Regions from separate parts of the Homo sapiens genome. Here region 1 is linked to region 2. A link means that fine-mapping ties the variant in region 2 to the expression of a gene that starts in the linked region. Tissue or cell type: tibial artery. Region 2 holds a variant in brackets; the other region holds the start of a gene. All regions are shown on one strand. Distances are from middle to middle.

The links.
Region 1: it holds the start of MECR, and the variant in region 2 is fine-mapped to the expression of MECR in tibial artery (GTEx, PIP 0.99).

The regions. Positions count from the first base shown.
Region 1 is chr1:29,228,458-29,233,833 of GRCh38, forward strand. MECR (mitochondrial trans-2-enoyl-CoA reductase) reads right to left here and starts at 2,477. Exons shown (of 10, transcript NM_016011.5): 1 at 2,274-2,477. The coding sequence starts at 2,449. RefSeq lists enhancers at 1,853-2,353, 2,354-2,854, 2,379-2,488.
Region 2 is chr1:29,178,405-29,183,780 of GRCh38, forward strand. SRSF4 (serine and arginine rich splicing factor 4) reads right to left here and starts at 3,496. Exons shown (of 6, transcript NM_005626.5): 1 at 3,242-3,496. The coding sequence starts at 3,348. It also overlaps a transcript of MECR not described here. RefSeq lists enhancers at 1-30, 3,549-4,186, 3,615-3,844, 4,187-4,824 and silencers at 3,095-3,284, 3,335-3,544. The variant A/C (reference allele first, on the strand shown) is at 2,184.

The DNA of each region.
Region 1 (5,376 bases), 50 kb after region 2:
TCTCCTGCCTCAGCCTCCCGAGTAGCTGGAACTACAGGCTTGCACCCCCATGCCCAGCTAATTTTTGTATTTTTAGTAGAGACAGGGTTTCGCCATGATCTGCCCATGTTAGCCTCCCAAAGTGCAGGGATTACAGGCATGAGCCATCGCGCCCGGTTGGAAGTATCATGTTTTGAACTAGAGGGAAATTACTGAAGTTCCACAGAAGGACATAATAGAAGCTTTTTTTTTTCCTAAGTGGCATCTGCAAACAGACCGGTCTGTTCCAGCTTCTCTGGCTCTCCAAGAGGAGGGAATCAATTAGGAGGCAACTGCATTCAGCTGAACTTTCCCAGGCCTTCCTCATCACCACAGCAGAACTTAATAAAAGGTTCACTTTTTTTGGAAATTTAGATTTAGATTGAACTAACATTTTAGGAGCACCTGTTTTGTGGCAGGTCCTGCTGCAGACACAAACTACAAGTCCGTGGGAGAGACACTACATGGTTCTCATTTGGGGTACATTCCTGGAAATGGAGGAGTGTTCATCAGAGCTGTACCAGTTCCTTACAACGCAGTCCTTAGTGAGATGTCTTCCCTGACACAATGCTTTATTACCTACGATCAACATACAATTTGGAGTTTACTGACTGATGTGTCTTCTTGACATTCTTTTCGTTTCTATAATGCGGGATGTGGCTAGGCTGATTGGATGACCTTGAATTTATCTGAGGCTTATCCTCACCACCTGTCAAAACATCTAGCTTGATTTTTTTTTTTTTTTGAGACAGAGTCTCGCTCTGTTGCCCAGGCTGGAGTGCAGTGGCGCAATCTCGACTCACTGCAACCTCCGCCTCCTGGGTTCAAGCGGTTCTCCTGCCTCAGCCTCCTGAGTAGCAGGGATTACAGGTGCCCACCACCAAGCCCGGCTAATTTTTTTGTATTTTTAGTAGAGATGGGGTTTCGCCACGTTGGCCAGGCTGGTCTAGAACTCGTGACCTCAGGTGATCCACCCGCCTCAGTCTCCCTAATGCTGGGATTACAGGCGTGAGCCACCGTGCCCAGCTCTAGCCTGAATTTTAACCATTAAAGTAATACCACATTTGCCCATCCTTTGGAAAATAATCAAACTATTTGCTGGGAATCAAAGAGTTAAAAAGAAGGTACTGCACAAGAGTATGCAGGTGTTTTTTGGTGGAGAGCACTACATAGATCTTAGGTGATTACCACTATGAACTTTGTCTGTACTGTCTCCATTTTTTAAGATGATGAAACCGAGGCTCAGAGAACCTCAGTAACTTGCCAAATGCAAAGCTAGGACAAGGATTTGACCCCAAGTATTTTGATTCCCAGACCTGTGCTTTTGCTTTAGCTCCACTTCAGTGGCCCCAATAGCCCTTCTGAATGGCTATTTATGTGCAGATTTACAATGGTTGGCAACTGACATACTATTTTTATCAACCACGTGCAAAAAGCATGAATTAAGATCCAACAGAATTTTAGGAGGAGGACAAAGTCATAAAAGTAACGAGAAGTTGAATGACTTCTCTAAGACCAAACAGCTACTAAGACGTTGAGCCTGTATTTGACCAAATATAGATACTTGGGTCTGTATGGCACCAAAGCAGCTCTTTTTAACCAAGCCAAGATGCATATACGGTGCAGTGGAGAGAAACATGAGTTTGGAATCAGAAGCCATGGATTCCAGTCTCCTGTTCCAATCACTTATTAGCGGTATCACTCTGGGCAAGTCCCTTGCCCTCTGGAAACAATGATCTATGACCTACTCTTTACTGACACATGAAGATCCAAATGGATGTAAAAGTATTCTGAAAACTTCTTCCAAATAATAATAATAATAGTAAGAACTCACGCAGGTCAGTCAGACATAGGTTGGAATTCTGACCCTGTCACTTACTGGCTGTGTGACCTTGGACGAGTGATTTTACCTCTTCTGCCTCAGTTTTCATCTGCAAAATGGGGATAAATCAATAACTACCCCAAAACATTGTTGTGACAATTAAATGAGAGCATCCATTTAAACAAGGGATTGCCTGACACAATATTCGATCAATAAACATCAGCCATTAATACCCTGATAATTGCCTCTCGGGTCTTCAGCTACCTTCAAGTACGGTCTTTCTGACCTACCAAAAACGCCCTGGGCTTCGGCTTCGGTTTGCTATTCTCTGCCCCCTTCCTCGGACCCTGTCCCTCTCTTCCCAGTCCGCAGCTCGTGTTAAAGCCTTCCAGAAACCCCAGTCCCCTTCCCCGGCTTCGGCGCCGTCTCTTACTCGACGACCTTGGCTGGATCCCCGTGGTGCCCATAGACAAGCGCCCGGACCCGGGCAGGCTCGGCGGATGCGGAGTAGGAGGAGGCGGCAGGTCCGTGACAGCCAGAAGCTGGGAGCAGCCCCCGCCACTGCCGGGCGGGGGTTCGCACCCGCCACAGGGTACTGCAGACCCACATGCTCGCTCCAACCAACACAGAGCCTGACGCCCCGGCTACGTCATCTTCCAGCGACCGCGCGCCTGCGCCCCGCCCCTGCCCCGCCGGGTGACCACTCCCCCTTGGTCCCTTTGAAGGGCGTTTCCTTCCTTCGCTGCCCAAGTGGTGGCGCCTGGCTAGACTGCGTGTGGGCCCCGGAGGGATCCGGGGGTGCGGAGCTTGCGAGGCCGCCAAAGCTGTTGTCTCAACAAGGAGAGTCTGGGGCTAGTCCAAAGTCGTGTCTACAGCCTGCAGTTTGGTGTTTGATTTGGAGGAAATATTTACTCTCCCTGGCCTCAGTTTACCCTTCACATAATATATTGAGTGCTCACCGAGCCAGGCTCTTTAAGGTATTATCTCATTTAATCACCACTACCATGTAACGGCATAGGGAGGCAAAGCTTACTTCCCTACACTGAGGAGAGTACACGAAAGCTGCTGTGGAGGCAGGAGTATGGGGCTTGGAGTTAGAAAACTTAGGTTCAAATCCTAGCCCTGCCACTTCCTAGCTTGGCCACCTTGGGCAGGTGAAACTCTGAATTTTTCTCATCGGTACAATGGGGATAATATGCCTCCTTCCGGATTGTTGTGAGGATTGGATGAAATAATAGAGGAATGCTATTGTGGGTGGGAGAACGCATTGTAAAAAACTCTGTTCAGATGTAAGACAGGAATCACAAGGAGAAGGGTCCTCTCTCAAAATGCTCACAGTGTAGAAAGGGATTAAGTGGAACACTGGAAATGCCTGTAAAAAGGTGTAGCCCTATGAAGGATCTAGTCTGATTTTTGGTGTAGGGAAGACATGAACATTACTAAAACCCCAGATCGAGCTGTGGCTCGTGCCAGAGTGCAATGCTGTAGTCTGAAGAGAAGTGCTCTGGGATGGGGTGGGATGGGGTGGGGGCTCTTGGAGGAGGTGCTGTTAGAGCCAGCCCTGTGATTCAAAATCTTCTGTGTGCATAAAAATAATCCGAGGTCCCATCTTAGACCTACTGAATTAGAATCTTGCGGATGGGGGTTCCAGGAATCTACATCCTTACAAGCTCCCAAGAATATTCTGATGCAGGTGTCCCAGGAAACAGGTTTTAAGATACTGAGCCAGGGCTTTGAAGGATAAGGAAGAGTTCCTTTCCTGGATTTTATTGACTTGAAGCTTGCCATCTCCAAGCCTTTCCTCTGAGGAAGAGAGCACAGCAAAGTACTGTGAGCTAGATTTGGACAAACCTGGCTTTATGTCCTAGCTCTGCCATTTTCCAGCCATTTGATTTCGGACAAGTCACCAGGCCTCTCTGTGTCTTCACTTTCTTACTCTTAAAATGGAAGGAATACTAGTTATCTGTTTCAAGATTGTTGTGAGGGTCAAGTGAGATATTATCCACTTGAAGCATTTAGTACAATGCTTGGCACATGGAAGCATTTGATAAATATTATCGGGGGTTATTGTGATTAAATGAGAAATATCACACATAAAACCCTCAGACTAGGGTCTGGCTTATAGTATGTGCTCACTAAATGTCTGTACTTGTTTTTATTATTAGAGAAAGTTGGTGTCCCATGGTGGGGGAAAGGCTTGGCCCCACATTTATGTGCCAGCACACACACGATGACCAGTCCTGCTTACCCTTTTCCCCAGTGACACATAGGCTTACTTGAACTGGGAAGTACAACGTAACCTTCTGTTGTAAGACTCCCTAGGTGACATTGAGATGTCGACATTCTCTTCTTCACCAAATTGGCTCCTCTGAATTTCTGGGGAGCCCAGTCAGGAAGCCTGAAGAATCATCCAGCAAGTCCTCCTCCTTGGGGCTGGACTTTAGCCTCCTGTGCATCCCAATAGCCCTCACTTTTAGTCTAGGCCATCTGGGTTCTTGCAGGGGCATAGTTTGAGAACTACTGACTGAGGGGTTCAAGTCCAATTTCCTGGACTTGCATTCAAGATTCTTTGCACTCTGACTCCCACACTGCATTTCCAGCTTCATCTTCTCCTGTTGGACCGTGCATAGCCTGTGATCCAGCTGCATCTGATACCCGTCTTCCCCAGTGTGTCTTGTGCCTTTATTCAGGCCACTCCTTCTGCCTGAAATGCTGTTCCCTGCCTCGGAAACTCCAGGTTCAGATGTCATTTCTTTGATGTTTCAAAACTCCCTAGGTCATCTGCTGCTGCCTTTGTGTTTTCCCTGGAGCTGTGTTATGGCCTTTAGTACATCGTCTCTTATTTATTCCCCTCCAGGCAAGACTGGAGCCATGTTTGGTTTATCTCCATAACACCAGCACCCGATATGAGCCTGGCACAGGGTAGGTGTCATAAATATTCCATGAGTTGCAGGTAATTGAATTTCCTCATGGCCTAGAACGGTCTGTGGTGCCATCTCCTTTTCCCTAGATTTGGGCTGGTCACTCCAGGCCAGGAATTTCCTTCTTCCTTCTTCTCTCAAGGATTATAGAAGTCTGTGGTCTTTTTTTTTTTTTTTTTTTTTTTTTGAGACAGAGTTTTGCTCGTTGCCCAGGCTGGAGTGCAATGGCGCGATCTTGGCTCACTGCAACCTCCGCCTCCCAGGTTCAAGCAATTCTCCTGCCTCAGCCTCCTGAGTAGCTGGGATTACAGGTGCCCGCAACTACGTCTGGCTAATTTTTGTATTTTTTTTTTTTTTAGTAGAGACAGGGTTTCACCATGTTAGTCAGGCTGGTCTCAAACTCCTGACCTCGCCTCTGCCTCCCAAAATGCTGGGATTACAGGTGTGAACCACTGTGCCCGGCTGAAGTTTGTGGTCTTTTAAAAGTAAAGCAGAAAGTCCTCTTCTCATCTGTCTACCTGTTGCTTGTGTTCTCTTTCTCCCTCCATTATAGTCTCTGCCATCTTCCCCTGCACAAAGGGCAAAGGGATGTGGAATCAGTCAGATCTGGGTTCA
Region 2 (5,376 bases):
ACGATCTCGGCTCACTGCAAGCTCCACCTCCCAGGTTCACGCCATTCTCCTGCCTCAGCCTCTCGAGTAGCTGGGACTACAGGTGCCTGCCACCATGCCCGGCTACTTTTTTTTAATTTTTATTTTCATTTTTAGTAGAGACGGGGTTTCACCATCTTAACCAGGATGGTCTCGATCTCCTGACCTCGTCATCTGCCCGCCTCGGCCTCCCAAAGTGCTGGGATTACAGGCCACCGCGCCCGGCCTCTGAGTTTCAATTACTAATCACAATCTAGATATGTTCAAACATGCTTCCCAGTAGGGAGATCCACTGCCCTTCTGCTAGGGGACTATAAGCTTACATACGTAGCTAAGTTATGCTTTTTCTTTTGTACTCACTCCTTCCTTTCAGACTCTCCAGCGTTTTTGCCATACAGGCAATTTTTGCTTGAAATACATCTTTACCATTGGTCTTCTTCCCAGAAGTCGTTTTCCTCTGTAATGATTCCTCAATGATGCCAGGAGGTCATATTGTGTGCTGTTTGGTGACTGTCATACCTGTCTTTGAAACTCTAAAATGACTTCATTTCAACCTTGACTTTCAATGACATTTCATGCATATCATGGTTTGGCAGCATAACTGTAAGAATGAACAGTTCCTTAAAAAAACCACCCAGGTATTTAGGGTCCTGAAAGGCTCTTTCCTCTTATCGCTCCATCTTCCTTTTGGGTTGCTCACTTCTTCCTTCCAGAGCCTTTGAATTCCTACTCATTGATTTCGAATTTTTAGTGTAAAATCTAATAGTCGTTGTTTCTGGTTTATGTTGTTAAATTTCTAGATTCTTCATAAGGCTTGATCCATGCTAGATTGTTTATTATTTTTCATAATTGCTTCTTACTGGACCATGTCTTCAACACCAATTATGACATTAAAAAAATATTTTTTCCCTATTCATCAAAAAGCAAAAAAAGTCAGCATTGTACTTATTTTATTAGAGATGGGGGTCTTGCTGTTACCCAGACTGGAGTGCAGTGTCACAATCATAGCTCACTGTAGCCTTGAAATCCTAGGCTGAAGTGATCCTCCTGCCTCATCCTCTGAAGTAGCTAGGACTATAGGCGAGTGTCACCACGCGTGGCTAATTAAAAAAATTTTTTTCTTAGAGATGGGGTCAGGCTGGTCTCAAACTCCTGGCCTGAAGTAATCTTCACACTTCAGCTGGGATTGCAGGCACAAGTCACCATGCCTGAGCCCCAACTACGACATATACTATTCCCAGAAACCTAAATTTCTTCACTTCAAGCTCTAATCTATTCTTCAAAGCCATTTCAACACATCTTTTCAAGCAAATCATTCCAAGTTTTACTAGAGTTTAAAGCGAAAGCAAACATTTCTTAATTCAAAGTGCACATGTCATAATGCTTAATTTATTCAAGAGCAGAACTGTTTTCTGCCTCCTCCCCCAATTCATTTAGCACAGTGGTGGACATTTTGTTGATGGGTTATCAATACATTTGGTTGATGAATCAGTTTCCCATTAACAGTCTTGTCATTTCCTGCACACTATCACCTGAGTAACATTAGAAAAGACCTCACCAAACACGCTTTATGTTATCAAACACCAACAAGCAAAGATGTTTCCTCATCCCTCTGATTATAGCTGCCACTTACTGCCTAAGCCAAATGCTTTACATTTATTATCTCTAATCTTCCTTTTCCACATGAATGAACAACCAGGTTCAGAGAAGTAACTTGCCCATACGTAGTAAGTGGTGGAACCAGGATTTGACTTAGGCCTGGCTGGCTTCAAAATCCACACTTTGTCCACAAAAGTTAGTTATGCTGTCAATTTAGCTGGGCTCTGAAAAAAACTGGAGTTTCAACTTTCACATATATGGTATGTATACAATAACGTCTACCCGCCACTTCAATATATCCTTAAGAACTGAACGTTTTACTGTAGAAAAGGAGTAGTTTTTAAAGCCTTTTACTGTAAAAGAAATCAGTACTTTACTAAAGACGTCCTCAGAAAGAAAACGATTCTAATAATTAATTTGAAATGGCTTTTTAAACCCAAATCATCATTTGAGAATACGGTAGCTACCAGTTTTCTCATACGTGAAACATACTTAGGTAACTTTCAAAATGTTTCAGGTGTCAGTTACTAGTATAACCCTGGGGAGTAAACGGTAGCTATATTACA[A/C]CTGTTGCAAAGTAGAGTTTCTTTTTTAAGCCAAGAGTTCTCTAACACCCAAGGTTTAGTGCCCTAAAATGTCACCCCAGTCCTTTTAATTTTATATCCATGCCTTCCAAGCCCTACCTAACATCTGGTTCCCAGTTTTCCCCGTTGAGTATTTTCTCCAGGCCTGATTCCTCAACAGTTTTCCCTAAAACCTGTAGCTCATGCTGGCACTATTTTTGCCGAAGTAGATTAAGAATACAAGTAATAGATCATACTCTGGGGGAGGCAGTAAGTTAACAATTTCGTCTCCGTCTGCGTTAACCAGACGCAGATACTAGCCAGGGTGGCCACTATTCTCCTAACAAATTCTACAACGGCCAAGCAATTTTTCGGTAAGTTGGAAAACGGAAACCACAGCGTGGAAACTCTGCACGGAGTCTTAAAGATAAGAAGTTAAGACTTTAATTTACTCTTGCAGAGGGAACGGTGAAGGCTTTCAGCACGGCAAGACGATACTTTCGAAACTGTCACTAGACTACTCAAACTGGAGTCTCCCGCCCAAAAAAGCGTGGCACACGGCTAAAAAGGGCCTCCCTCCAAGGCTCCAGTCCTCGGGGAAGACGGCGCTGTGACCGTCTGATCCATGAGACCGGGCAAGAGGTGAAAGGGAGCAGGAAATCCTGTTTATTTCCAGTAGTCCTCAGAGCGGGAAAGGTTGGTGTCTACCCAGAAACGAATAGGGCCCCAGTTCCGGGCCTAGGAAGGGAAAACCCAGGTCTCCCGGGCGCCCTGGAGCTGTGCCCCCCTGCCCGGAGCACCAGCCCCACTCGGGCTTTCCTTCTCCCCGTCCCACTCAGGGCCTCAGCACAGCTCCCATTATGCCTCCACCACCCCCACCCGCGCAGGCGCAGTGGGAACCGGGGCCTACCCGCGCCCCCGAGGCGCCGCCACTATGGCGGAGCCTGGCCAGGCCGGTAGCCGCTCCGCGCGGACCAGGCGTCCCTCTCCCGTCCCCGCGGCCTCCCCACCACCTATGGGGTCTGTCCCCGCCCGGCCGGACCCTCTTTCGCCCTCCTCACCCGTTCTTCAGATCCACCTCCAGGATCTTCCCGTAGCCCTTAAAGAAGCGCTCCACATCGCGCTCCCGGGCCTGGTAGCTCAGGCGGCCGATGTACACCCGCGGCATCCCGGCAACGGCAGTGATGGCTGGCCCCGGCCCCAGCCCCCCTTAGGCGGCGGCGGGCAAAGCGAGAGCACGGCGGCAGCGGCGGCGGCGGCAACGGGCGGGCGGCGGGACGGACGCAGCCGAACCCCGGCGACGTACGCGAGCACGCAGCTCGCGAGCGCGCGCTTCCACTTCCCCCGCCCTTCCCCGAGGCGGAAGGTAACCGGAGAGAGCGCGCGTTCGCTTCCCGCTCGGCCAGGACTGGGGGAGGAGCTTGCCCGGGGGCGCGCCGACGTGCGGCGGGGCAAGGTGATCGACAGGCGGCGCTGCGGCACGTCCTCGCGCGAGCTCGCCAAAGGGGTTCCTGCACCGCCTTCCGCAGCCAGCTGGCTTCGCCCCTCCCCCGGAAGTGTCCGCACCTCCTAGAGCCCAGCGAGCGAGCGTTTGTGCTTTTGTCCTTTGAACCGGGTGTGGTTTGGATTTCGGAGCTGGAGCTTTGGAATCAAACCTAGCTTCCAAACGATTGTGTACCCGTGACCTTGGGCTTGTTACGCGCGATGTCTCGGACCCTCCTTTATCTTTTCTGTAAAAGGGGGAGAGTAGTTCCTACCTTCCAGAGTTGTCTTGAGAATTATATGAGAATACGTACATAAAGCACTTAGTAGTTTTGTCATATCAAGTGCCCAATAAATGAGACCAGTATTATTTTTAAGAGGACACTGCTTAAATAGAAGCAGTGTGAGAAGCGGAGAAGGCTGGAGCTTTGGAGCTAGACTAGGCATGACGCCGAGTAAATTACTTGACCACAATCCAACCTATTTTTTTTTTTTTGAGACGAGTTTCGCTCGGTCGCCCAGGCTGGAGTGCAGTGGCGCGACCTCAGCTCACTGCAACCTCCGCCTCCCGGGTTCAAGCGATTCTCCTGCCTCAGCCTCCAGAGTAGCTGGGACTACAGGCGCCCGCCCCCACGCCCGGCTAATTTTTGTATTTTTAGGAGAGAGGAAGTTTCACCATATTGGCCAGGCAGGTCTCAAACTCCAGACCTCAGGTGATCCGCCCGCCTTGGCCTCCCAAAGTGCTGGGATTACAGGCGTGAGCCACTGCGCCTGGCCTATCCAGTCTATTTTCTAACCTGTAAAATTAGAATAATGTATACCCATCTCAAGGATTACACAGGTCACTAAATGGGGTAGTGTATGTGAAAGTACTTGGAACAGTGTCTGAAACATGGTAAGAGCTCAATAAATATTGGTTCCCTTCTCACTAACGCCATGTACCTAGAACCATAAAGGGTTTTGTTTCTTTGCTTGTTTTTGTTTTTTGAATATTTTGAAAGGATAACTCAAGGTTCAAATGATACACAGTGAAAAGTCTTCGCTGTCCACCAGCCACTTAGTTTCTCTTCCCAGAGGCAGTTTCTGAAATGTCCTTTAGGAGGTTAATTTACCCTTATAAAACAAATAGTAGGATACTATACATATGGTTCTACACAAAATATATTTTGAAAATCATTCCTTAAGAGTATAAAAGGACTAGTTTTATGGTTCATACCATTTTATACACAGTAATTTATTTAGCCAGTGCCCTGGTGAAGGACATTGAAATAAGTTCCAACCTTTTGTTATTACACTGCTGCAGTAACTTTGCATTTCTCTCTCTCTCTTTCTCTCTCTCTCTATATATATCATCTATTCCTAGAAATAGGATATTTGGGTCAGAGTTTTGATAAGTTATTGCTCAATTCCCCTTAAGTGGCTGTTTCCTCATATCCTCATCAACACCGTGTTATCAAACTTTTTGATCTTTGCCAATCTGAGAGGTGAAAAATGTTATCTCCAAGTGGTTTAATTTGCAAATATCATATTTTGCAGAGATATGAGTCTTTCTTCATATGTTTGAGATATATTTTCCTATTTCTGTCTGTGTATATCCTTTACCCATTTTTCTTATTCATAGGTGCTCACTATATATTAGGAAAATCAGCTCTTTGTCAAATGAGTTGCAAATATTTTTTCCATTTGTTGACTTTTGACTTTGCCAAGAGTGTTT